7 linked regions of the Homo sapiens genome follow. The protein of the gene in region 1 interacts with the protein of each later gene in a biochemical or structural test. Each region holds a gene or a part of one and is shown in the gene's direction. Other genes may lie near its edges.

Evidence for each region.
Region 2: the proteins of PDZD4 (region 1) and DOCK4 interact in a test that uses a peptide from one of them, tested with the Homo sapiens proteins (one large-scale study listed by IntAct).
Region 3: the proteins of PDZD4 (region 1) and ARHGEF16 interact in a test that uses a peptide from one of them, tested with the Homo sapiens proteins (one large-scale study listed by IntAct).
Region 4: the proteins of PDZD4 (region 1) and FRMPD4 interact in a test that uses a peptide from one of them, tested with the Homo sapiens proteins (one large-scale study listed by IntAct).
Region 5: the proteins of PDZD4 (region 1) and DGKK interact in a test that uses a peptide from one of them, tested with the Homo sapiens proteins (one large-scale study listed by IntAct).
Region 6: the proteins of PDZD4 (region 1) and ABCC4 interact in a test that uses a peptide from one of them, tested with the Homo sapiens proteins (one large-scale study listed by IntAct).
Region 7: the proteins of PDZD4 (region 1) and DGKZ interact in a test that uses a peptide from one of them, tested with the Homo sapiens proteins (one large-scale study listed by IntAct).

The regions. Positions count from the first base shown.
Region 1 is NC_000023.11:153,804,106-153,806,544, reverse strand, and holds part of PDZD4 (PDZ domain-containing protein 4), read left to right. Parts: intron 1-411; coding exon 412-474; intron 475-938; coding exon 939-1,040; intron 1,041-1,337; coding exon 1,338-1,448; intron 1,449-1,644; coding exon 1,645-2,439.
Region 2 is NC_000007.14:111,744,900-111,748,399, reverse strand, and holds part of DOCK4 (dedicator of cytokinesis protein 4), read left to right. Parts: intron 1-956; coding exon 957-1,133; intron 1,134-1,982; coding exon 1,983-2,066; intron 2,067-3,500. UniProt on the Homo sapiens protein: Functions as a guanine nucleotide exchange factor (GEF) that promotes the exchange of GDP to GTP, converting inactive GDP-bound small GTPases into their active GTP-bound form. Involved in regulation of adherens junction between cells.
Region 3 is NC_000001.11:3,468,165-3,471,664, forward strand, and holds part of ARHGEF16 (rho guanine nucleotide exchange factor 16), read left to right. Parts: intron 1-715; coding exon 716-772; intron 773-1,268; coding exon 1,269-1,429; intron 1,430-1,835; coding exon of another isoform or gene 1,836-1,917; intron 1,918-3,500. UniProt on the Homo sapiens protein: Guanyl-nucleotide exchange factor of the RHOG GTPase stimulating the exchange of RHOG-associated GDP for GTP. May play a role in chemotactic cell migration by mediating the activation of RAC1 by EPHA2.
Region 4 is NC_000023.11:12,715,473-12,718,972, forward strand, and holds part of FRMPD4 (FERM and PDZ domain-containing protein 4), read left to right. Parts: intron 1-596; coding exon 597-1,661; intron 1,662-2,028; coding exon 2,029-3,318; intron 3,319-3,500. UniProt on the Homo sapiens protein: Positive regulator of dendritic spine morphogenesis and density. Required for the maintenance of excitatory synaptic transmission. Binds phosphatidylinositol 4,5-bisphosphate.
Region 5 is NC_000023.11:50,464,326-50,467,825, reverse strand, and holds part of DGKK (diacylglycerol kinase kappa), read left to right. Parts: intron 1-3,500. UniProt on the Homo sapiens protein: Diacylglycerol kinase that converts diacylglycerol/DAG into phosphatidic acid/phosphatidate/PA and regulates the respective levels of these two bioactive lipids.
Region 6 is NC_000013.11:95,291,452-95,294,951, reverse strand, and holds part of ABCC4 (ATP-binding cassette sub-family C member 4), read left to right. Parts: intron 1-3,500. UniProt on the Homo sapiens protein: ATP-dependent transporter of the ATP-binding cassette (ABC) family that actively extrudes physiological compounds and xenobiotics from cells.
Region 7 is NC_000011.10:46,371,463-46,374,962, forward strand, and holds part of DGKZ (diacylglycerol kinase zeta), read left to right. Parts: intron 1-24; coding exon 25-141; intron 142-241; coding exon 242-313; intron 314-612; coding exon 613-708; intron 709-965; coding exon 966-1,048; intron 1,049-1,154; coding exon 1,155-1,215; intron 1,216-1,308; coding exon 1,309-1,422; intron 1,423-1,498; coding exon 1,499-1,639; intron 1,640-2,694; coding exon 2,695-2,773; intron 2,774-2,936; coding exon 2,937-2,992; intron 2,993-3,141; coding exon 3,142-3,204; intron 3,205-3,303; coding exon 3,304-3,377; intron 3,378-3,471; coding exon 3,472-3,500. UniProt on the Homo sapiens protein: Diacylglycerol kinase that converts diacylglycerol/DAG into phosphatidic acid/phosphatidate/PA and regulates the respective levels of these two bioactive lipids.

The DNA.
Region 1 (2,439 bases):
GGACAGCAGATGGGCCTGAGAACTAGCAACAGGGTTGCTGTCTAGCCTTCTCCCGAACCCATCTTGGGCAGATGTCTTGTGTATCCCCAGGAGGGGGATGGCCCCTCGCTCCCCTCCCTACTAGTAGCATCCCACTAAAGCCACCCTTCCAGATGGACAATGTCCTACTTCCCACCAATGCCCGGGGCTGACCAAAAGCACAGGCTTCCGTGCAGAAGAGCCTAGGAGTGCAGGGCAGGGGCGGGGAGAGGTGACTACTCCACAGCCTCTGCCTCTGCTTCCTGGGGCTCAGAGCTGGAAGGGGAGCCAGAGAGCCTTCAGCTTGCTTTGGGGGCCCCTGAGGTGAGCCTGCCCCCTTCTACCGAAAGGGCATGTTAGGCACCAAGTCCCCAAGATGCGTGTGTCCTGCAGGTAAATCCCAACAGCATTGCAGCCAAAGACGGCCGGATCCGTGAGGGAGACCGCATCATCCAGGTGAGCACTTGCAGGCTGCAGGCCTGGCCCAAGGCCCCGCTGTGCCCGTCGGCCCAGCCACCTCTCTTTAGCCAGTCCCTAGCTCTCTCCCACTAAGAGCTAACCCTGAGGCCCAGCAGCCTGCCGTGTCCTAAACCCGGGCTGAGTCTCATCTCTCTCCTGCCCACTCACCCCAGTGGCTCCCGTGTGCCTATGGGATCTGCTGGCATCCAGGGCCCCTGCTGCTCTGAAACCTCCTGGCCCCTCTCCCTCTGCCCCACTCCATGCTCTCCTGAGCACACATTTGCTCTTGCAAGAGTCAGGCCGCCCTCTCCCTGGTACCTTCCACTTAGTTACATCCTCCCAGAGCTCAAGCCCCAGCCTAGCCCAGCCGAGCCCAGAGTGCTTGGGCTCCCTGCACCCGCCCAGGGTCCGCCCCAGGGCCAGCCCTAGCATGCTTGTTGATTGTATCCTGCCTGCCTCAGATTAACGGTGTAGACGTCCAGAACCGGGAAGAGGCGGTGGCCATCCTGAGCCAGGAAGAGAACACCAACATCTCCCTGCTGGTGGCCCGACCTGAGAGTCAGGTGTGTATGCCTGGCAGGGCGACCCGGGGCCACGACATCAGGCTTTCTGTCTTGGAAGCTGCTGGCCGTGACTAGGGCACAGATGTGCCAACGACCTGGAGTTGATGGAGGGCGGGTGGGCAGGGGTCTCTCAGGGCCCGTTTCCCCTCCTGGCCTCTGAAGGCTGAGGGGGCTGGGACGCTGCCCCCAGGTTGCTGAGCTTCACCGAAACAAGCCAAGTGCGGGGTCCAGAGCAGACAAGAAGGGTATATGGGGAGGTCCTTGAAGCTGTGGGGACACCAGGGCCTGTCTCCACAGCTGGCGAAAAGGTGGAAGGACAGCGACCGGGATGACTTCCTGGATGACTTTGGCTCTGAGAATGAGGGGGAGCTGCGTGCTCGTAAACTGAAATCACCCCCTGCCCAGCAGGTGAGGAAGGAAAAGGGCGCTGGTGGGGAGGGCGAGGAGGAGAGAACTGGGTGGAAGGCGCTGAGGCTGTGCAGGGTCTCCCAATGCTTGGCAGGGAAATGAACCAGGCCTGAAGCCCCTTCCGATCCTCCTGTGACATCCCGTGACATCCCTGTCCGTGGGACCTAACTGAGCGGTACTTACCTTTCTGCTCTAGCCCGGAAACGAAGAGGAGAAGGGGGCTCCCGATGCCGGCCCAGGCCTGAGCAACAGCCAGGAGCTGGACAGCGGGGTGGGCCGGACTGACGAGAGCACCCGGAACGAAGAGAGCTCTGAGCACGACCTGCTGGGGGACGAACCCCCGAGCTCCACCAACACCCCGGGAAGCCTGCGCAAGTTTGGCCTGCAAGGGGACGCCCTGCAGAGCCGGGACTTCCATTTCAGCATGGACTCTCTGCTGGCCGAGGGGGCGGGGCTGGGAGGGGGCGACGTCCCGGGCCTCACGGATGAGGAGTATGAGCGCTACCGTGAGCTCCTGGAGATCAAGTGCCACCTGGAGAACGGCAACCAGCTGGGCCTCCTCTTTCCCCGGGCCTCCGGAGGCAACAGCGCCCTGGACGTCAACCGCAACGAGAGCCTGGGCCACGAGATGGCCATGCTGGAGGAGGAGCTAAGGCACCTGGAATTCAAGTGCCGCAACATACTGCGGGCGCAGAAGATGCAGCAGCTGCGTGAGCGCTGCATGAAGGCCTGGCTGCTGGAGGAGGAGAGCCTCTACGACCTGGCGGCCAGCGAGCCCAAGAAGCACGAGCTGTCCGACATCTCCGAGCTGCCCGAGAAGTCGGACAAGGACAGCACCAGCGCCTACAACACTGGGGAGAGCTGCCGCAGCACCCCGCTGCTTGTGGAGCCCCTGCCCGAGAGCCCCCTGCGGCGGGCCATGGCCGGCAACTCCAACTTGAACCGGACCCCTCCCGGCCCCGCTGTTGCCACCCCCGCCAAGGCAGCTCCT
Region 2 (3,500 bases), on another chromosome or scaffold:
CTTATATACCCTGAACACGTGCTTTTTGATGGTTACACATGTTACAAAATCTTCTATGTTCTTGCTTATCTTCCCTTCTCTTTGTCTTTGATGAATGTTCAGTCTTCATATTCTAGGATTTTTCAGTGTTGGTTTAAGATGATCCAAGTGACCTTTAAAAACTCTAATTTGTTTCCTTGCCTGAATGAACCAATATTTAAATATGCTAATTGTAGTCCTGAATTACTTGATTGCTGAGAGCTTGGCAGACCTTCTCTTCAAGGCAATAGCAGTCCCAATGACATACATTTGAAGAGCACTTTTATCATTTTCACAATTAGGTCCTCCATACAGCCTGGAATTTTTAAGTCATTATGATTCTATTTGGCTCTCCAACAAATAGATCCTGCAGTATATATTATCTTGTTTTCTATAATTCCCAACTGTGTGCCATCCTGTGCCACCTTATGGTGCTGTTATATATATATATGAGGTTCATGTGGCATATGTCCCATCTTCCCAACTGGGCTGAAAGCTCCTTGACATCAGAGGATCCATAAATGCATCTTTATATCTCCCATGGTGCTTTGTATCAAATAAGCATGAGAAAGGGGATAATATTCAGGGTCTCTGAATATTTAACCCTTCAAAAGAAAAAAAAAACTAGTTTTAAAAGACATGAGATGCTTGGATATTATTTTAAGGATTAAATTGGTTGTTGCAGTGCTAATGTAGAATTGATGATTATCCAAACCACATTTCAATGAATAAGTATAATTACCTGCCCTTTCCAAACCTTGCTAATGAACATCCCACTTGACTTCCACATCCTTGTCTATTCTACGGAATGGCCCCTGGTAGAGATATTGATGGAAGCCAAGGGGGAGCACAGATAATTCAGAACATGGATAAACTACTTTGTCTTTCTTCTTGAATGTCACAAATTCAATATATATTTATGTTCATTTGCTTCTCAGGTAGAAATGAGTCCTCTGGAAAATGCAATTGAAGTGCTAGAAAATAAGAATCAGCAGCTGAAGACTCTGATTAGTCAGTGTCAGACAAGACAGATGCAGAATATTAATCCCCTGACTATGTGCCTGAATGGAGTTATAGATGCTGCAGTTAATGGTGGCGTTTCCAGGTATCAAGAGGTAAGGATTAGGTATTGTTGTTTCAGAGAAAGTTTTCAATTGTGACTTCTTAGGGTTTCATGAATCTTTTTTCAGACTATGTACCCATATCAGCACGCAAACATAGGGCTGCGATTGACACAGAGTCCTTTGTTAAATAGAGCAAACATACAGTCATTTGTAATTGCCCAGTAACTCCATTTTCCCAACATGTTATATTTGGATAATAAAAATGTGTGTGTGTGTGTTCATTCTTGCATGAATAAAAGTAGAAAGGACATTAGGACTGTTTAATAAATATCCGTCTAAAATAATTTCTCTAAGCAAAGAAGTTCATGGGCATAGAAAAGTCTGATCTGGGCTGGGCTCAGTGGCTCACACCTGTAATCCCAGCACTTTGGTTTGAGACCAGCTTGAGCAACATAGGAAGATCTTATCTCTTATTTAAAAAAAAAAAAAAAAAAAAAAAAAAAGATAAGACCGATCTTGCTTAGATGATACTTTAAGTGGACCTTTCATCTGCTCTCTTAAACAGAAAGATATAATACCCTGGAAGGTAAGGCCACCATCTAGGTCACACTGAATCTTAAGGCAGTTTGTTTTAGGATACAAGCCATATAGCTTACTGATTTGGGCTTGTTCTTTATTTTAGCAAGGGTACTTATTGTACAATCACTGATCTTCCTTTAACAATTCTTTCCTTATGTTCCCATTCTGACCAACCACCTACACTAGTAATCAGCCCATCTGTCCCAAAATGTGGTTTGTAATGGTGTCATTTCCATAAAGATGCCAGGTCTTTAAAAACAACTTGTCTTTGACTTGCCTTGTACTCCACTAAAGTAGACTGATTCTCCTTTCCCTTACTAGGCATTCTTTGTCAAAGAATATATCTTAAGTCACCCTGAAGATGGGGAGAAAATTGCACGATTAAGAGAGCTGATGCTTGAGCAGGTAAGGGAAGCAGAAGCCAACCCCCTTCTATTTTGCCTGGATATGTGCTTGCTTACCTAGAGCCCCCTCTGCATGGTTTCCTGCATCAGTGGTCTAACAGAAGCTGGCAAGCAAGGGTGACAGATTCCTGTAATATATCCCAGCTTGCTAATTTCTACTTCTTCTTCCCACTCCGATGCAAAAATTAATTTAACAATGAGTAGACTATGGCAGCCAGTTACAGGTTGAGTATCCTTTATCCAAAATACTTGGGACCATAAGTGTTTCAGATTTTGAAATATTTGCATATACATAAGAGATATCTTGGGGGAGGGACCCAAGTCAAATAACAAAATTTATTATTTCATATATATCTTATACACATAGCCTGAAGGTCATTTTATATAATATTTTAATAATTTTGTGCATGAAGTTTCGACTGCAACCCATCACGTGAGGTTGGGTGTGGAATTTTCCACTTGTGGGATGTTGGCATTCAAAAGGCTTCAAATTTTGGAGGATTTCTGATTTTCAGTTTTTGTATTAGGGATGTTCAACCTGTGAAACAAACAACTTCATGTGGTCTCTTAAAACATTCTTTGAATGTTCTCTTCCTAGAGACTTGCTGTAGGCTTGATGCCAACTTTTTTTTTTTTTTTTTTTTTTTTTTTAAGACGGAGTCTCCCTCTGTCACCCAGGCTGGAGTGCAGTGGCATGATCTCTGCTCACTGCAAGCTCCGCCTCCTGGGTTCACGCCATTCTCCTGCCTCAGCCTCCCAAGTAGCTGGGACCACAAGTGCCCGCCACCACACCTGGCTAATTTTTTTTGCATTTTTAGTAGAGACGGGGTTTCACTGTGTTAGCCAGGATGGTCTCGATCTCCTGACCTTGTGATCCACCCGCCTCAGCCTCCCAAAGTGCTGGGATTACAGGCGTGAGCCACCGCGCCTGGCCGATGCCAACTTTTCACTCAAAATTCTGTGCTCAGAAAAGTTCAGGCCAACTCCAAATATGAGGCATGAATGAAATTTTTACTTAAGCATTGTAATAAGGAAGTGGGCAATCAGTAGATCTTGCTTTAAAGCAGTGTCATATTTTGCAAAGTAAACCTATAGGTTACATGATATGGACAAAACTACATACAACTCATCATTTTCTACCCCCAGAGAAGCGTGGTTTATTTATTTGGAACCATCAAGTACAAAGAACTGGAATGAGTAATCTGTTGCCTACTGTGTCCCTATTGATAGCCTGAAATGGTTTGAAAACCTCTGAGGTAGGAGACATGGTTGGAAGCCTGTGTTAAACAGGAAATAAAGACATTTGCTTCCTGTGAAAAGTGGAATATGTGTGATGAAACATGACAAAGGCATTTCTTTCTACCCAATAATGCCAAATTAATAAGTAAAGCATGCTCTTTGGATTAGAAAATGAGGTCGTGTCTGGTTTTCATCC
Region 3 (3,500 bases), on another chromosome or scaffold:
TACCGCACCCTGGTAACTGCCAGAGTTTCCGACCCTGCATGGGAAGGAGGCACTGGTTTGGGGAATGGGGGACTCACCCTTGGCCCAGGCGCTGTTGGCGGCCTTTCTGCCCAGCCCAGTGAGGAGCAGAGCACGAATCAGGGTGGCCTGAGTCCTGCAGAGGGGACCCCTGGGCGGTGTGGCAGCCCTCCTGGTCCTGACGTGCTCTACCAATCGAGCCACACTCCCGCCAAGGCGACCCGCCAGCTGTGGGCCCCGAGGAGGAGGGAGCCCGGGCGGAAACAGCGTCACCCATAGCTTCCAGGCAGGGCACTGACTCGCCTCGCCCAGGTGGGGTCTGAGTCACAGTCCTGCCCTCCACACTCCCTCCCTGGGTGGGCTCCGCACCTCTCCATCTGCCGGGAAGATCTGTGGGACAAGATCCCCCCCCGCCCTCTGGCCTCTCCCTCTGGATGCCCCATGCTCTTTCTGGGCTGCTTTGGGGCTCTGGCGGCTGGGGGGAGCGGGGGGCTGACCCAAGGCGGGTTACACAGAGAGGAAGGTGACGGGGATAGGCCCTCGGCAGGACAGGCCTACTCCAGGATCGGACCTACCTGAGCCCTGTGGGGTGGCTGTCCATGTTGGCCCTGGTCCATCAGGAGGAGGAAAGAAGGGAGACTTTGGCCCAGGCTTCTAGGACGTGTGACCGAGAGCTCCTGGGCCTGTGTCCCCCCAGGTGGTGGAATTGGGCATCCTGGACCAGCTCTCCACTGAGGAGCGGAAAAGGCAGGAGGTAAAAGGGCCCTGGGCGGGAGGGCTGTCCCCCATGGCCTGGGCCATGCAACACCCGGGGAGGGGCAGCAGCCACGGTGGCACCACCCAGCCATCCCTCTGCGGCCACCTCCAGTGCCAGGCCCTGTCACGCTGACCAGCGCCTCACACAGCCCCGGGCTGTGCTTCCACCTGCGCCAGGCCCTGACGGAGCCCCTTCACGTCACCGGGTGAATCCTCGGAGTCCAGGGGCTGCCATCACCCCCTTCTCTGACAAGGACGGGGGTCGTTGCCCAGCTTCAGCCGGCTCATAAGGCACCCAGCCAGGGGCATCCAGGGACGTCGGGCTGGCATCTCCAAGCTGGCCATTCTGACAGCCCCATCCAGGGGTGTGTCTGGGGTTCCTGTCCCCACCTGCCCCTGCCACCCGGGTCACGTCCTCCTGTTCCAAGCATTGGTCACCGAGGCACGCCCGTGTCCAGCGTCACTGTGGGGCTCACCTAGGCCCCTCTCCACAGGCCATGTTCGAGATCCTCACGTCGGAGTTCTCCTACCAGCACAGCCTGAGCATCCTGGTGGAGGAGTTCCTGCAGTCCAAGGAGCTGCGGGCGACCGTGACCCAGATGGAGCACCACCACCTCTTCTCCAACATCCTGGATGTCCTGGGTGCCAGTCAGAGGTGAGGCCACGCCACAGCCTTCCACACAGGGTCCTCTGCCAGGAAGGTGCCTCCCCCCGTGGGCACCGCACTGTCATCAGCAGGCCCCTGGGAGCCTGCGCTGCACCTTGATGTGGATGGTTTAGAGCAGCTGCTGGCTCCCGCGGAGTGTGATGACCTCTGAGGGTCCTTGAGGCCACCAAGAGCTGGCCCCAGGGCCGGGCTAAGCACTGGGGCTGTGGCATCCTGGTCGTTCTTAAGACGTGGAGCACTTCCCAGGGGTACAACCCTGCCCCACTGCCAAGCACCACCCCACCAGGACGTCCAGGCACAGAGGGCTGCATGATCCAGGCAGTGGTGGCCACAAGCTGCTCACCTGTAGGCAGGAAGCCTCGAGTTGCAGCTCTGGGTCATGTTCCACCCAAAGGTGTCTGGTGGCTGGACCTGAGCTCTGGTTGCAGGGCCTGGAGGTAGAGAGGCTGGACATGCAGCTGCAGCCATGCACGGGGGTATGTGCGTGGGGTGGGGTGGGGTGTGTGTGCGTGGGTGTGTGTGTGGGGTGGGGTGTCTGTGCATGGCTGTGTGTGCATGGTCAGTGGTGTGTGTGAGTGGGCTGGCCCCGAGGCCTGGAGGGTGGCTCGGGAGCATCCAGCACCCTGGTGTGTATGCATGGGTGTGTGGGGGCAGGGGTGTGTATGCATGGGCAAGGGTGTGTATGCATGGGCAGGGGTGTCTGCACGGGTGTGTCTGCACGGGTGTGTGTGGACAGGGTTGTGTGTGCGTGGGCAGGTATGTGTGTGTGTAGGTGTGCATGGGTTTGTGTGCCTGGGCAGCAGTGTGTGTGCATGGGTGTGGGGCAGGGGTGTGTATGCATGGTTGTGTGTGCGCGGGTGTGTGCATGGATGTGTGTGCATGGACGGGTGTGTGCACAGGCAGGGATGTGTGTGCGTGGGCAGGGGTGTGTATGCGTGGTCAGGGTTATGTGTGAGTGGGTAGGGGTGTGTGTGAGTGGCTGTGTTTTCGGTCAGGTGTGTGTGAGTGGGTGTGTGTGCGTGGGCAGGGATGTCTGTGTATCTGCGTGGTCAGGGATGTATGTGAGTAGGTGTGTGTGCGTGGGCAAGGGTGTCTGTGCATGGCTGTGTGTGCGTGGTCAGGGGTGTGTGTGAGTGGGCTGGCCCCAAGGCCCGGAGGGTGGCTCGGGAGCATCCGGCACCCTGGTGTGTATGCATGGGTGTATGTGCATGGATGTGTGTGTGGGCAGGGGTGTGTGTGCGTGGACAGGTGTGTGTGCGTGGGCAGGGGTGTATGTGCGTGGGTGTGTGTGCCTGGCCAGGGGTATGTGTGTGGGCAGGGGTGTGTGTGCATGGGCAGGGGTGTGCGTGGGTGTGTGTGCCTGGCCAGGGGTGTGTGTGCGTGGGCAGGGGTGTGCGTGGGTGTGTGTACCTGGCCAGGGGTGTGTGTGCGTGGGCAGGGATGTGTGTGTGCATGGACAGGTATGTGTGCATGGGCAGGGGTGTGTGTGCGTGGGTGTGTGTGCCTGGGCAGGGGTGTGTGTGCGTGGGTGTGTGTGCCTGGGCAGGGGTATGTGTGGTCTCGACCCTGTGCTGCTCCCTATATGCAGGAGGACCCCGGAGCATCGAGTCTCCTGAGCCTCAGCCTCAATGCTAACCTGAGGGGCGGTGCCTCTGGTCCCCTCGTGGGCTTGGGTGGCGCTGGGAGATGATTAGGGGCCTGTAGTGCCTGGCACAGGGCTGCCCCAACAGTGGTGGTTGCTGGCGCATTCTTATATCAGCCCCGCCCCTGGCGAGTCCCACCCATCTGCTGCCTGTGGGGTGCCCTTGCGGAACTTTGGGGCCCTGAGGGTGGGCAGGGAGCCGCCTTGTCCCTGGAGACAGGGGCTTCCTGTAGAGCTCCAGGGACCAGCTATGGGAAACTCCCAACCTCTGACTCAGCATGGGATGGGGCTGGGGGAGGGGGAGGGGTCTGGGATAGCGGCTGCCCCTCCCCCAGCTCTGCCCCCAGCCAGGCAGGCTTTGTGTTCTCTGAGCTCTGTGTCCTCCGGTCCCCTCTGCCTCAGGCAGCTGCATGTTTG
Region 4 (3,500 bases), about 140 Mb from region 1:
ACATCCACTAGGATATCAAAAGACTGAAGATAGAAGTTTTGTACTATCATTACAACATTTATCTTAATTTCCTAAAAACTATGGTAAAACTCTGACGATCCTTGACCGTCTCTGAATTCAATGAGGAAAACACTCAATATCTTCCTCCATGAAGTAGGGAATATTAAATCTCACCTTACAAGGAAAAGAACAATTAATGTTCTGGAATAACGGCCTATTGAAATCTCACCTTTAAGGGTAAAAGACATGTTGTATATTTACATTTGTAGATATGAATGAAGCCTTTTAATAATAGAACCAAGGGTCAGATGGAATTAAGCTATACTTCCCTACCCCCAGATGGTATTACATTTTATCAAATAGCAATTACAGTTTATGCAGTATCAATTTTGTTAAGGTCGGTTCTCCTAACCCAAGGAATTCTTACACCTGAAGCCTAAATCAATAAGTACTATATTTGGGTAGTTGAAAAACTGTATTTACATAAGTGATGCTACAAGCCATTAAGTTAAAAAACAGAGACGAGCCTCCCACCCCCGCCCCACCCAAAACCAGACAGTACAGTAATGTGTCTTTGCGTGATTCTTTCTCTTTAGGACCTGAAAACAAGGGGAAGCATAACCTCCTTGGCCCAGATTGGAACTGTATACCCCAAATGACCACCTTTATTGGCGAAGGGGAACAAGAAGCCCAGATAACATACATAGATTCAAAGCAGAAGACGGTGGAGATCACAGACAGCACCATGTGTCCAAAAGAGCACCGGCACTTGTACATAGACAATGCCTATAGTTCAGATGGACTTAACCAGCAGCTGAGCCAGCCCGGGGAGGCCCCCTGTGAGGCAGACTACAGAAGTCTAGCTCAGCGGTCCCTATTGACCCTCTCAGGACCAGAAACTCTGAAGAAAGCACAGGAATCTCCGAGAGGAGCTAAAGTGTCCTTTATTTTTGGAGACTTCGCCTTGGATGATGGTATTAGTCCCCCAACCCTTGGCTATGAAACGCTACTAGATGAGGGTCCTGAAATGCTGGAGAAGCAGAGAAATCTCTACATTGGCAGTGCCAATGACATGAAGGGCCTGGATCTCACTCCAGAGGCAGAGGGCATCCAGTTTGTGGAAAATTCTGTTTATGCAAACATAGGCGATGTGAAGAGCTTCCAGGCCGCGGAGGGGATCGAGGAACCCCTCTTGCATGACATCTGTTATGCAGAAAACACTGATGACGCGGAGGACGAGGACGAGGTGAGCTGCGAGGAGGACCTCGTGGTGGGGGAGATGAACCAGCCGGCCATCCTCAACCTGTCTGGGTCAAGCGATGACATCATTGACCTCACATCCCTGCCCCCTCCAGAAGGTGATGACAATGAGGATGACTTCCTGTTGCGTTCCTTGAACATGGCCATTGCCGCACCCCCACCTGGCTTTAGAGACAGTTCAGATGAAGAGGACTCTCAGAGCCAGGCAGCTTCCTTCCCCGAGGACAAGGAGAAAGGCAGCAGCCTGCAAAATGATGAGATCCCCGTGTCCCTCATTGACGCTGTGCCCACCAGCGCCGAAGGCAAGTGTGAGAAGGGACTGGATAATGCCGTCGTCTCCACGCTGGGAGCTCTAGAGGCTCTATCCGTGTCAGAAGAACAGCAGACCAGTGACAATTCAGGTTCTTTCACAATTGTTACATTCATTCACTGATAACCATATCATTCCATCCTTCCAAGCCATTTGCCCCTGGAGTCCTGTTACGTGGTGTTCTCCATTTCACACATGTCCCATTTCATAAATGTGCTGAAACTGCCATCATGGGTTTTTTTGTGTGTATGTGATTTCCTTTGTTATTTTTTTTTAAAAACATAAGGCACATCTCCCCCCACCCCCATTTCTGGAAAAACTGCAATAAACTCAGAGTCCTTACTGAAAAGGGAAAAACTTGGTATTTTGTTTTAGTAATAACGAGTCCCATTTTCTTACATGTCTCCAAGTGCCTCTGATGCATCCATTAATCAGTTCTTGTTTTTTACGGCATGCAGGTGTAGCCATCTTGCGGGCTTATAGTCCTGAGTCTTCGTCAGACTCGGGCAATGAAACTAACTCTTCTGAAATGACTGAGAGTTCTGAACTGGCCACAGCACAAAAACAGTCAGAAAACCTCTCCCGCATGTTCTTGGCCACTCACGAAGGCTACCACCCCCTTGCAGAAGAGCAGACCGAGTTCCCGGCCTCCAAGACCCCCGCTGGGGGCTTGCCTCCAAAGTCCTCGCACGCCCTGGCTGCTAGGCCAGCAACCGACCTCCCGCCCAAAGTTGTGCCTTCCAAGCAGTTACTTCACTCAGACCACATGGAGATGGAGCCTGAAACTATGGAGACTAAGTCGGTCACTGACTATTTTAGCAAACTGCACATGGGGTCGGTGGCATACTCCTGCACTAGCAAAAGGAAAAGCAAGCTGGCCGATGGTGAGGGGAAGGCACCCCCTAATGGGAACACAACAGGAAAAAAACAGCAGGGGACCAAAACGGCAGAGATGGAGGAGGAGGCCAGTGGTAAATTTGGTACTGTGTCTTCACGAGACAGTCAACACCTGAGCACTTTTAATCTGGAGAGAACTGCCTTTCGCAAGGACAGTCAAAGATGGTATGTGGCCACTGAAGGTGGGATGGCTGAAAAAAGTGGATTAGAAGCAGCAACAGGGAAAACCTTTCCAAGAGCTTCTGGTCTTGGGGCAAGGGAGGCCGAAGGGAAGGAAGAAGGAGCTCCTGATGGAGAAACCAGTGATGGCTCAGGACTTGGTCAAGGGGACCGCTTCTTAACTGACGTGACCTGTGCATCTTCAGCCAAAGACTTAGATAACCCAGAGGACGCTGACTCGTCCACCTGCGACCATCCTTCCAAGCTTCCTGAGGCTGATGAGAGTGTGGCCCGCCTTTGTGACTACCACTTGGCCAAGCGGATGTCATCACTGCAAAGCGAGGGCCATTTTTCTCTGCAGAGCTCCCAAGGCTCTTCAGTGGATGCAGGCTGTGGCACAGGCAGCAGTGGCAGTGCCTGTGCCACACCCGTGGAGTCGCCGCTCTGCCCCTCCCTGGGGAAGCACTTGATTCCTGACGCTTCTGGGAAAGGCGTGAATTACATTCCTTCAGAGGAGAGAGCCCCTGGGCTTCCCAACCACGGAGCCACCTTTAAGGAACTGCACCCACAGACAGAAGGGATGTGTCCACGGATGACAGTGCCTGCTCTGCACACAGCCATTAACACCGAACCCCTGTTTGGCACATTGAGAGATGGATGCCATCGGCTCCCCAAGATTAAGGAAACCACAGGTACAGCAATGATGGATTTAGCACTTTGTATGACATGCCAAGAGCATGTAAACCATATTTACAACAAACTTAAAAACGTAATGTCTGGAAGAAAAGTAAAAGGTAGAATTTTAAAAGGCCACAGAACTGTAAAGTACCAATCATTGATCCCCTGGTATTTAATAAATACTAAAGATTATAAA
Region 5 (3,500 bases), about 100 Mb from region 1:
ACCCTCAATGTTGCTATGCAATTGCTCTCTGGTGCAGCTGGGAACATCTGATCTTCAGTGATAGGATCATTCTCTCCTGCATCTTCCTCAGACAAATGGCACCTGCAACCAGCTGGCTTGTATCTTAACATTCAAGGCAAACAGGTTGTCATCTTAGCTGGGGTGATGTTGTTTTCAAACACTGCCTCCTCGAGGCAAGCTTGGGGGGAAAAAACTGTGCAACACGCACAGGCGTGCACACACCCCTAACACACACACATACTATACATATGTGCCCAAAATGTCAGGGAACAAAACAAAATACAGGTCTCATCATGCAATGAAATCCTCCATAGCAAGCATGAAACTATCCTGATAATTCAAAGGATGAAATGAGCAAAACCAAGTGTTTGAATATGACTGCAAGTTTCTCCCAGATAATTTTGTTGACTGGTATTGTAGCAAAAAACCAACATCTTTCAGCCTTGTAGTCTGCTCTTTTTTGGAATTTCAGGAAAGTTTCAGAACCTGCAATTGACTGAGAAAAGGGGGCTCATGTTTTCTTTTCAAATAGCTACCAGGATAACACAGTCAGTCTGTGAACCAAACATGTCTATTTCTTTCCTTTCTAAAATGTTTCAATTCCCAGGAAATGAGCCATGGTCTCCCACCTGGTGGCAGCAAGTGTAAGTAAGGATGTGTGAATTGGTTCTTTAGCAATGCTATAACTCTCTTGGGGGAGGGATGGGGCTTATATGAAGTAGACCATGTTTCTTTCTCTCTCATCAGCTGTGCTTGAAGAAAGACAAAATTTTGTTTATTCATTGGGTTTTGACCAGCTATGAAATGAAAATCACATCATACAAATGATTGATGAAAATCTGAGGGGAGATACACTTTCATGGCTTTTGGGGGAGATAAAAGGGGTCTGTGTATCCCTCCTGATGACTGCACAGTAATAACCATTATCCTCAAACCATATCAGGACAGCTTTTATGCACAAAACTGATATTTTTGTACATTTTCTTGCAAAATAGCAAGCATTTGTTTATATGATATCTGGTGATTCCTATCAATATTTTATTAGTGATTTCTGAGCTTCTCAAAAATAGGGGTGGCCTTTCTCAGTGCCTAGTTCAATGCAGCCCTCCTTGATTTTGCTTAATAAACACTTGCTGAAGCTTGAAAACTATCCATTTCCAGCAATGTAGAGGCTGCTGCTGTGAATGAATAAAAATTTGTTCTCATTGGTTTCAGAGTGAGAAGTAAATACTTATTTAAATGGCATGGAATATATAGCCCTTAAGGAAATACAGTCAATCTTTCCATTTTCAGAGTGGTTATTGGAACTATAATTAAGAAGCAAATTACTAACAATTTTTATTAATGGCTTGGAAAGTGTCCTTATCCCATGCAGTCCCAGCAGCAGCAGACTAATAATGATATTGTTAGCTTCAGGGGATAATAAATTTTTTTCCTAAGTGAACAGAGTATCTGCAGTGACTGTAAACAGATTTGGGATTATAGATTCAGATGTTTAACCTGTTGAAGGTCAGAATGAAATTACTTTCTTTTCTCTTCAGTTTTTCCCCCCTCCTTGCCAAGCTTTGATGATACCATCTGATTTATTTGGTGTATTCTAATAGTTCCTAAGCAGTCACTACAGGGTGTTCTAGAAAAGATAATGAAGTATTGGTCAGTGGTCTTTAGTTTCTCAGAGTACAATTCTTATGCACTTATTAAAATCTCCGACTAGGGCTTCTGCAGATCTGCAGCCCAAAGGGAAAGTGCCTCCAAGGAAAGGCAAAAAAAAAAAAAAAAAAAAAAAAGAAAAAAGAAAAAGAAAAAAATATCCATAGAAACCAGGAAACCATTCAGGGGTATTCTAATAAGGATTATATAGTTCCTTCTGCTCCTGTGGCACTTTACAGTTTACAGAGTGCTTGCCTCTGCATTATTAACCCTTTTATTTCCTTGAACAAGGCAGCAGGTGGGGGAGGGCAAAAATAAAACTTGACAGCTTATAGGATGTAATGATTGAATTTTCTATTGTAGATTTTTTTAAAAATCTGACATATGGCCTTTTGTGATACATAGGATCCTCATTTGTCTAAGAACAGTCTTTTAGCTGACATTTCATCAGCTCTGAATTTTTTTCCAAAGCGGTGGTTGCTGCTCCACTTCTGATGCTCCCAGAGGGGGCCAGCATAGAAGAGGAGCCAGAGAAGAAACGAGAAGAGGCAGAGACCCTGAACCGATTACTCACAAAGACCTTTTTTGTTGGTGCGTGTGTGTTTTGTAAAGGAAATAAATTGAAATCCTGCTAAGGATAGGGTGCCCGACCTTTCCAAAGCCCACCCACTGTAATTCTTTCAGTGGAAAAAAAATAATTTTAAAGGAAAAAAAAAAAAGCAAGCAAGCAGCCATTCTAAAGGGAGATGCCCCACCCTCACCAAAGCAAATAGAGCTCATTCTCAAAATAATAAAAACAAATTTATGAATTTTAAAAACGAAAAGAAAGGGACAGTGACCCCAGATAATGAAATTTATCTCTCCTCTGAAAATTATTTTAAGAAAAAAAAAGAAACAGCTTCTAAAAGGAAGTTATCCTCACCCTCATCAAAGCCCATGGAACTTATATCCCCCAAAGAAAAATTTTAAGATGAAAAAAGAGAAATCATCTTAAGTTAAACAGTATTTCTAACCTTAAAATATTCATGAAATTTGTAAACTTTATTTGACTTCATGGCTCATGCTTAATCTCTTGAGAAAATTAAGGGGGCAAAAATAAAGGGAAGGTCCCCCAACCTCATCAAAGCTTCCTGACATTATTTTCCCGATTACATAAAATGTGCAGAGGAGGCAAATCCTTAGAGATGGAAAGGAAATGAGGGAAGCAATATGGGAGGTGGAAAAGGGGATGATGGCTAAAGAGTACAGGGTTTCTTTTGAGGGTGATTAAAATGTTCTAAAATCAGAGAATGGTGATGGGTGCACAACACTGTGGATACAATAAAACCCACAAAATTGTGTATGTTAAGATGATGAATTTTATGGTATGTAAATTACATCTCAATTTTTAAAAATAGTTCAAAGAAAGATACCATCCCTCTAACCACAAGATAAGAGACCTATTATTCTCCCAAAAACAAAAAACAAACAAAATTGAAAAAAGGAACTAAAAGAAAGGGAGATCCTCTTAAAGGATCTTCAACCTCGCCAAGGATAATAACCTTTATTTGCCACCCCTTCAATTAAAAAAAAAGAAATTAAGGAAAACAAACAAAAAAAGGAAATCTTTTTAAGGGCAGATATTCTCAAAAATCATAAAAGTTAATGAAATTTACGAATCCTCCCCTCTAGATACACACATTTTAATTAAAAAAAGAAAGAAATATTAAAGGATAGGTCCCTGACTATACCAAATCTCCAGAATTTTTAATTCCAAGAAGCAGGGGCGCGGGGGGTGCGGGAGGGAGGGACAAAAGAAATACCACTCCTCCATGACTAAAGAGCATAAA
Region 6 (3,500 bases), on another chromosome or scaffold:
ATGGAGTTTCACTCTTGTTGCCCAAGCTGGAGTGCAGTGGCGTGATCTCGGCTCATTGCAACCTCTGCCTCCGGAGTTCAAGCGATTCTCCTGTCTCAGCCTCCCAAATAGCTGGGACTACAGATGTGCGCCACCATGCTCAGCTAATTTTTTGTACTTTTAGGAGAGATGGGGTTTCAACATGTTGTCCAGGCTGGTCTTGAACTCCTGACCTCGGGTGATCCACCCACCTGGGCCTCCCAAAGTGCTGGGATTACAGGCGTGAGCCGCCATGCCCAGCCTGGACTATGTTTTCTACCCCAACCTTGTGGTCAGAGGTGACCATGAAACTGAGACCTGGCCAATAGGAAGTGGTTGCAAAAGGTGTCTCGCTTCCACGACTGGAACACAAAAACCAGCCCCATGCAACGCCTCTCCAGCTGAATAAAGAGGCCTCCTGGAGAGGAGGAGGACTGAGAGGAGGCCGAGCCGCAAGATGGTGAAAGTCCAGCTAGGAGTAAATGTATGGTGTTGTTCACCACCCTAGATGGCCCAAAAGGGGACTATAGCATGACAATAGGCATGGTCTTGGTTTCTTGTTTTCTTTTTTGAGACGGAGTCTATCTCTGTCTTGCAGGCTAGAGTGCAGTGGCGTGATCTCGGCTCACTGCAACCTCTGCCTCCCGGGTTCAAGCGATTCTCTTGCCTTAGCCTCCTCCCAAGTATCTGGGATTACAGGAGCTCAAAACCACGCCCGGATAATTTTTTATTTATTTATTTATTTTGTATTTTTAGTAGAGAAGGGGTTTTGCTGTGTTGGCCAGGCTGGTCTCCAACTCCTGACTTCATGTGATCCACTGCCTCGGCTGGTGATTTTGAATTAAGCCATTGAGAATCAGGGCTTGTTTAATAGCTAGCATTATTTGCACGATACAGTGGCTGCCTCCCTCATTGTGTGAGCTCTTTGAGAACAGGAATGGTACTTTATTGTAATGGATTTGCACCTGGCAAGAAAGAAGGCACCCTGCCTTCTTTCATGGTGGCACATGCCTGTAATCCCAGCTACTTGGGAGACCGAGCAGGAGAATCGCTTTAACCCAGGAGGTGGAGGCTGCAGTGAGCCAAGATTGCACCACTGCACTCCAGCCTGGGCTACAGAATGAGACTCTGTCTCAAAAAAAAAAAAAAGCAAAAGAAAACGTAGTCCAGGCTGGGTGCGGTGGCTTATGCCTGTAATCCCAGCACTTTGGGAGGCCGAGGCAGGTGGATCACAAGGTCAGGAGTTCAAGACCAGCCTGGCCAACGTAATGAAACCCCGTCTCTACTAAAAATACAAAAATTAGCTGGGCGTGGTGGCATGCACCTGTAGTCCCAGCTACTCGAGAGGCTGAGGCAGGAGAATTGCTTGAACCCGGGAGGCAGAAGTTGCAGTGAGCCAAGATCACGCCACTGCACTCCAGCCTGGGCAACAGAGCGAGACTCCATCTCAAAAAAACATAGTCCGTGTGTCCAGCAGTCGCTGCTGCAGGAGTTCATCCTGAACCCGTGTTGGGTGTGCTGGAGTAGAAGTATGGAAAAGCTGTGTGAGGGTGGGGATTTTGTTTTTGTTTTTGTTTTTTGAGATGGAGTCTCTGTCGCACAGGCTGGAGTGCAGTGGCATGATCTCGGCTCACTACAACCTCCGCCTCCCGGGCTCAAGCGATTCTCCTGCCGCAGCCTCCCAAGTAGCTGGGATTACAGATGTGCACCACCAGGCCTGGCTAATTTTTTTGTTGTTGTTAGAGACAGGGTTTTGCCATGTTGGCCAAGATGGAGATCTCTGGGGAGGGGTTTACCTTCCTGTTGGAGCTTGGATGGAGAAGGTGGGAAATCGTTCCTGGCAGGGGATGAGATGTCCAGGTCACAGAACTGCAGTTGGAGAAAGTGTTGCCTGAGACGTGTGGCGAATGACCACCCCTCAGTCGCTATGTCGTCCCTGCCAGCCGGTAGCGTTTGTTACACCCAAGGTTGCCCTCCCCTCTTTCATCCCAGCAGATGTTCAGACTTTGCTTCTCCCACTTCCAGCCCCTTACTCATGAGTACTTACAGCCCTTTTGTGGCCTGCGACGTAGCTCCTTGTTCCATTTCTGGGTTCCATGACCACTTCCGTGCTGGTCTGTTTCAGGCCTAGTCCCTGTCTGCTCTTTTCTCTGCGCTAGCTCCTATCTTCCCCTTTTCCTTAGTGTCATAGAATTAGTGGGTTGAAAGGAAGAGATCTTCTAGCCCACACTCAGTACAGGAATCCCTTCCAGATACTGGGCAGTGGGGAAATGCATTATGTGACTCTCATGACTTTAGATTCGAATGCCAGAATTATGTTGTATTGAGCCACAGTTTTCTTTCCATGCAATTTCTACTTGTGTTTACTTACTTCTAAGAAAAGCATTACAGAATTTAATGAAGCAAAGAATGATCTGTGAATCAAGCAGCTCCTAGAACCAAAATAGGTTCAGAGCCGCTCTCCTTTGTTTTTTTGTCAACACGCAGAGCAAGTTGGCTACCTCCCTTCATATGCTCGCCTCATAGTATTCAAAGACAGCTATCATGGCCACATTAAATCTTTGTTTCTTTGTTTGAGACAGGGTGTCACTCTGTCACCCAGGCTGGATTGCAGTGGTGCGATCTCAGTTCACTGCAACTTTCACCTCCTGGGCTCAAGCCATCCTTCCACCTCAGCCCCCTGAGTAGCTGGGACCACAGGTGTGTGCCAGCATGCCCAGCTAATTTTTTATATTTTTTGTAGAGATGAAGTTTTGCCATGTTGCCCTGGCTGGTATTGAACTCCTGGGCTCAAGTGATCCTCCCGCCCTAGCCTCCAAAAGTGCTGGGATTACAGGCATGCGCCATGGTGCCTGGACAGGAGTTTATTTTTGACCCTGTTAAGTTTGAGATGCCTGCTACACATTCAAGTGGAGATGTTGAATAGGCATTCAATTGGTCATGAGTTTGGGGCTCATGGAGAAGTTTATCTTATTATTATTATTTCTTTAAATGGAGTTTCACTGTGTTGCCCAGGCTGGCGTGCAGTGGTATGATCTTGGCTCACTGCAACCTCCACCTTCTGGTTCAAGCAATTCTCGTGCCTCAGCCTCCCGAGTAGCTGGGATTACAGGCACGCGCCACCACACCCAGCTAATACTTGTATTTTAGTAGAGATGGAGTTTCATCATGTTGGCCAATGTGGTCAGGAAGTTTATGTCAATTTGGGCATCATCAGTGATACATGCAGTTGAGCTATATTGGACACATGGCCAATTGACCTCACAGTCCGCAGGGCTTGTCCCCATGTAACTGCTCTTCTATCCCTATGCAAATTCATTTTGTAGATGCTAACGTTTAGCAGCTCATTGTTGCTGTTGAAAGTTCTTGGAACACTTTCGTAGTCTGAATGCTAGAAAGGATGGGTCCTAGGAATGTCCTCTAGGTTGTGGCAGATCCACTAATCAACACTGTGGTTGCTAGATTAACTTGGCCACAAGTGT
Region 7 (3,500 bases), on another chromosome or scaffold:
AGCCCGGCCCCTCGCTCTCCTCAGTACCACAGCAAGGTGTCCTGCTTCATGCTGCAGCAGATCGAGGAGCCGTGCTCGCTGGGGGTCCACGCAGCCGTGGTCATCCCGCCCACCTGGATCCTCCGCGCCCGGAGGCCCCAGGTGAGTACTGCCTGCACCCTTGATGCCCCGTACGCACTTGGGGTCTGCCAGCTACCCCAGCCTGCCCACCTCGTCACCAACACCCCTGCTTCCCTTGCAGAATACTCTGAAAGCAAGCAAGAAGAAGAAGAGGGCATCCTTCAAGAGGAAGTCCAGCAAGAAAGGGCCTGAGGTCAGCCCCAGGCTGGGCAGAGGCTGCAGGGGAGCAGGAGAGAGGGGTCTGTTGCTCAGGGTACAGAACTTCCACCCCCAGCTAATGCTGCCAGCTGGTGGGGGTCTGTGTGGGCTCTGGGGCCTCTGAGGAAGGCAGGATTAGATGCCAGTTTCTGCTCTGTGGCCTGGTAAGATCTGGCCCAGAGATGGTACGTGAGGGTACAAAGAGGGAACAAAGTCACCCAGGGGGCCTGCTAAGGATGATGGTAGGGTGTCCTGGACGGGAAGGAGCTTACAGCCTCTCACCTTGTCTCCCAGGAGGGCCGCTGGAGACCCTTCATCATCAGGCCCACCCCCTCCCCGCTCATGAAGCCCCTGCTGGTGTTTGTGAACCCCAAGAGTGGGGGCAACCAGGTGAACGCGGCCTTGCCTCTCAGCTAAGGGCTCGGGCGGGGGTTGGGGTCCAGCCCGTCTGCCAGCAGCTGTTCCCAGAGCCCGTTTCTGGCTTCTACCCCAATCCCTCTTTCCCAGGGATCCTGAGAAAATCCTGTCCTTTCTCCACCCCTCACCCCTTATTGGCCCTGGTTCCCACAGTCACACCCCTCTCCCTCTGCTGCTCCCACTTCGTCCCACCACTGCCTGACTGTCTCTTGGCTCCCCATCCCATCCAGGGTGCAAAGATCATCCAGTCTTTCCTCTGGTATCTCAATCCCCGACAAGTCTTCGACCTGAGCCAGGGAGGGCCCAAGGAGGCGTAAGTACTTGCCAAGGTTTTGTGGGGGACATGGGGGGGAACTTGCCTCACTCCTGGGGTACAGCACACATCCCCTGACCCCACTGCCATCTTCCCATGAGCCCAGGCTGGAGATGTACCGCAAAGTGCACAACCTGCGGATCCTGGCGTGCGGGGGCGACGGCACGGTGAGCTCCCCGCATGGGCCAGCCGAGCACCAGGGCTGGGCCTGAAGCCGGGGTCCCTGTGGGCCTGATTTGCCTCTGTTCTTCCTCCCCCAGGTGGGCTGGATCCTCTCCACCCTGGACCAGCTACGCCTGAAGCCGCCACCCCCTGTTGCCATCCTGCCCCTGGGTACTGGCAACGACTTGGCCCGAACCCTCAACTGGGGTGGGGTAAGCACCCATAGGAGGGGGGTGCAGCTGGGGCCTCTCCAGCCACAGAGGGCTCAGTCCCTGCCTGCTCCCCCAGGGCTACACAGATGAGCCTGTGTCCAAGATCCTCTCCCACGTGGAGGAGGGGAACGTGGTACAGCTGGACCGCTGGGACCTCCACGCTGAGCCCAACCCCGAGGCAGGGCCTGAGGACCGAGATGAAGGCGCCACCGACCGGGTAAGTTGGCCAGGGTTGGTGGGGGGCAGGGCAGGTGACTGGGGACTGGATCCCACTTTTCCACTTGCTGGTTCTGGGACCTCGGGCGTGTCTCTTCATTTCTCCAACTTCCACTTCTTCCTTGTACGATGGGAATAATAGTACTTGCCTCACAAGATGCTGTTTTTTCTGTGTTTTTTTTTTGTTTTTTTTTTTTTTTTTTTGAGACTGAGTCTCGCTCTGTTACCCAGGCTGGAGTGCAGTGGCGCAATCCCAGCTCACTGCAACCTCCGCCTCCCAGGTTCAAGCGATTCTCCTGCCTCAGCCTCCTGAGTAGCTGGGATTATAGGCAGGTGCCACCACACCTGGCTAATTTTTGTTTTTCTGTTTTCTTTTTTTTTTCTTGTTTTTTTTTTTGTTTTTGTTTTTTGTTTTTTGTGACAGAGTCTCACTGTCACCCAGGCTGGAGTACAGTGGCACAGTCTTGGCTCACTGCAACCTCTGCCTCCCGGGCTCAAGCTATTCTCCTCCGTCAGCCTCCTGAGTAGCTGGGACTACAGGCACCCGCCACCACACCCGGCTAATTTTTGTATTTTTAGTAGAGATGGGGTCTCACCATGTTGGTCAGCCTGGTTTTGAACTCCTGACCTCAGGTGATCCATCTGCCTCGGCCTCCCAAAGCACTGGGATTACAGGCATGAGCCACCACGCCTGGTCAGAAGATGCTGCTTTATTCCATAGACATGCACTGAGCGCCTGCTACCTGCCAGGCACTTCTCTAAGCAGTGAGCAAAACCAAGCCTCGCTGTTGTGCTCCACATGGCATGTCAGGAAGAAGTGTTAGGGGAGCTGACAGGGAAGAGATGCTGCAGGCACGCAGGGAAATCCCCCAGGAGCCACCAGGCAGAGCAGGGCTGTGCCTGACAGCGGGTGAGCTGGGCTGAGCCCTAGCGGACGCTGCTGACCAGGAAAAGCCTGTGAACAGATGGGCTGAGCTGGCTCGGCCACACGAGGCCCCTGGAGCGGGGACATTTGTGAGGCCCAGCCCTCATTTTGGTCCCTTGACCTTTTTCCAGTTGCCCCTGGATGTCTTCAACAACTACTTCAGCCTGGGCTTTGACGCCCACGTCACCCTGGAGTTCCACGAGTCTCGAGGTTGGCAGCCTCCCACTGAGGCCAGGGCAGGGTGGGCACAGGAGTGTCCCCGGGAGGGTCAGACCCTGCTCCCGCCAGTGAAGGCATCCATCCCAGCCCTCCCCCAACCCCACCTGGGCAGGCTGGGGTGACTCACTGGCCCCCACTGCTTGTCTCCACCCAGAGGCCAACCCAGAGAAATTCAACAGCCGCTTTCGGAATAAGATGTTCTACGCCGGGGTGAGTGGGGTCTGCACCCCCGCCTGTGCCCACCTCTTCTACCACCCGTGCCCGTGCCCACCTGTGTCCACCAGGCCCCAGGAGCCCTGCCGGGTGCTGGTGAGGAAAGATCTCTGTCAGCAGATGGTGACGCCCTCTGTCTCCCACAGACAGCTTTCTCTGACTTCCTGATGGGCAGCTCCAAGGACCTGGCCAAGCACATCCGAGTGGTGGTGAGCGGGGCCAGGCTGCCGTGGGTGGGTGGGCCGGAAGGGAGGGAGGCGGAGGCCACCTGGCACATGCACCTCAACACCCTCCCCGCCCGCCTCCAGTGTGATGGAATGGACTTGACTCCCAAGATCCAGGACCTGAAACCCCAGTGTGTTGTTTTCCTGAACATCCCCAGGTGAGGAGGGGGCTACCGGAGCTGGGGGGAGCCCTGCTGTCCTTGTCCTGCAGAGACTGTGTTTTGAGGCCCATGTCATCGCCCGCCTTTGCAGGTACTGTGCGGGCACCATGCCCTGGGGCC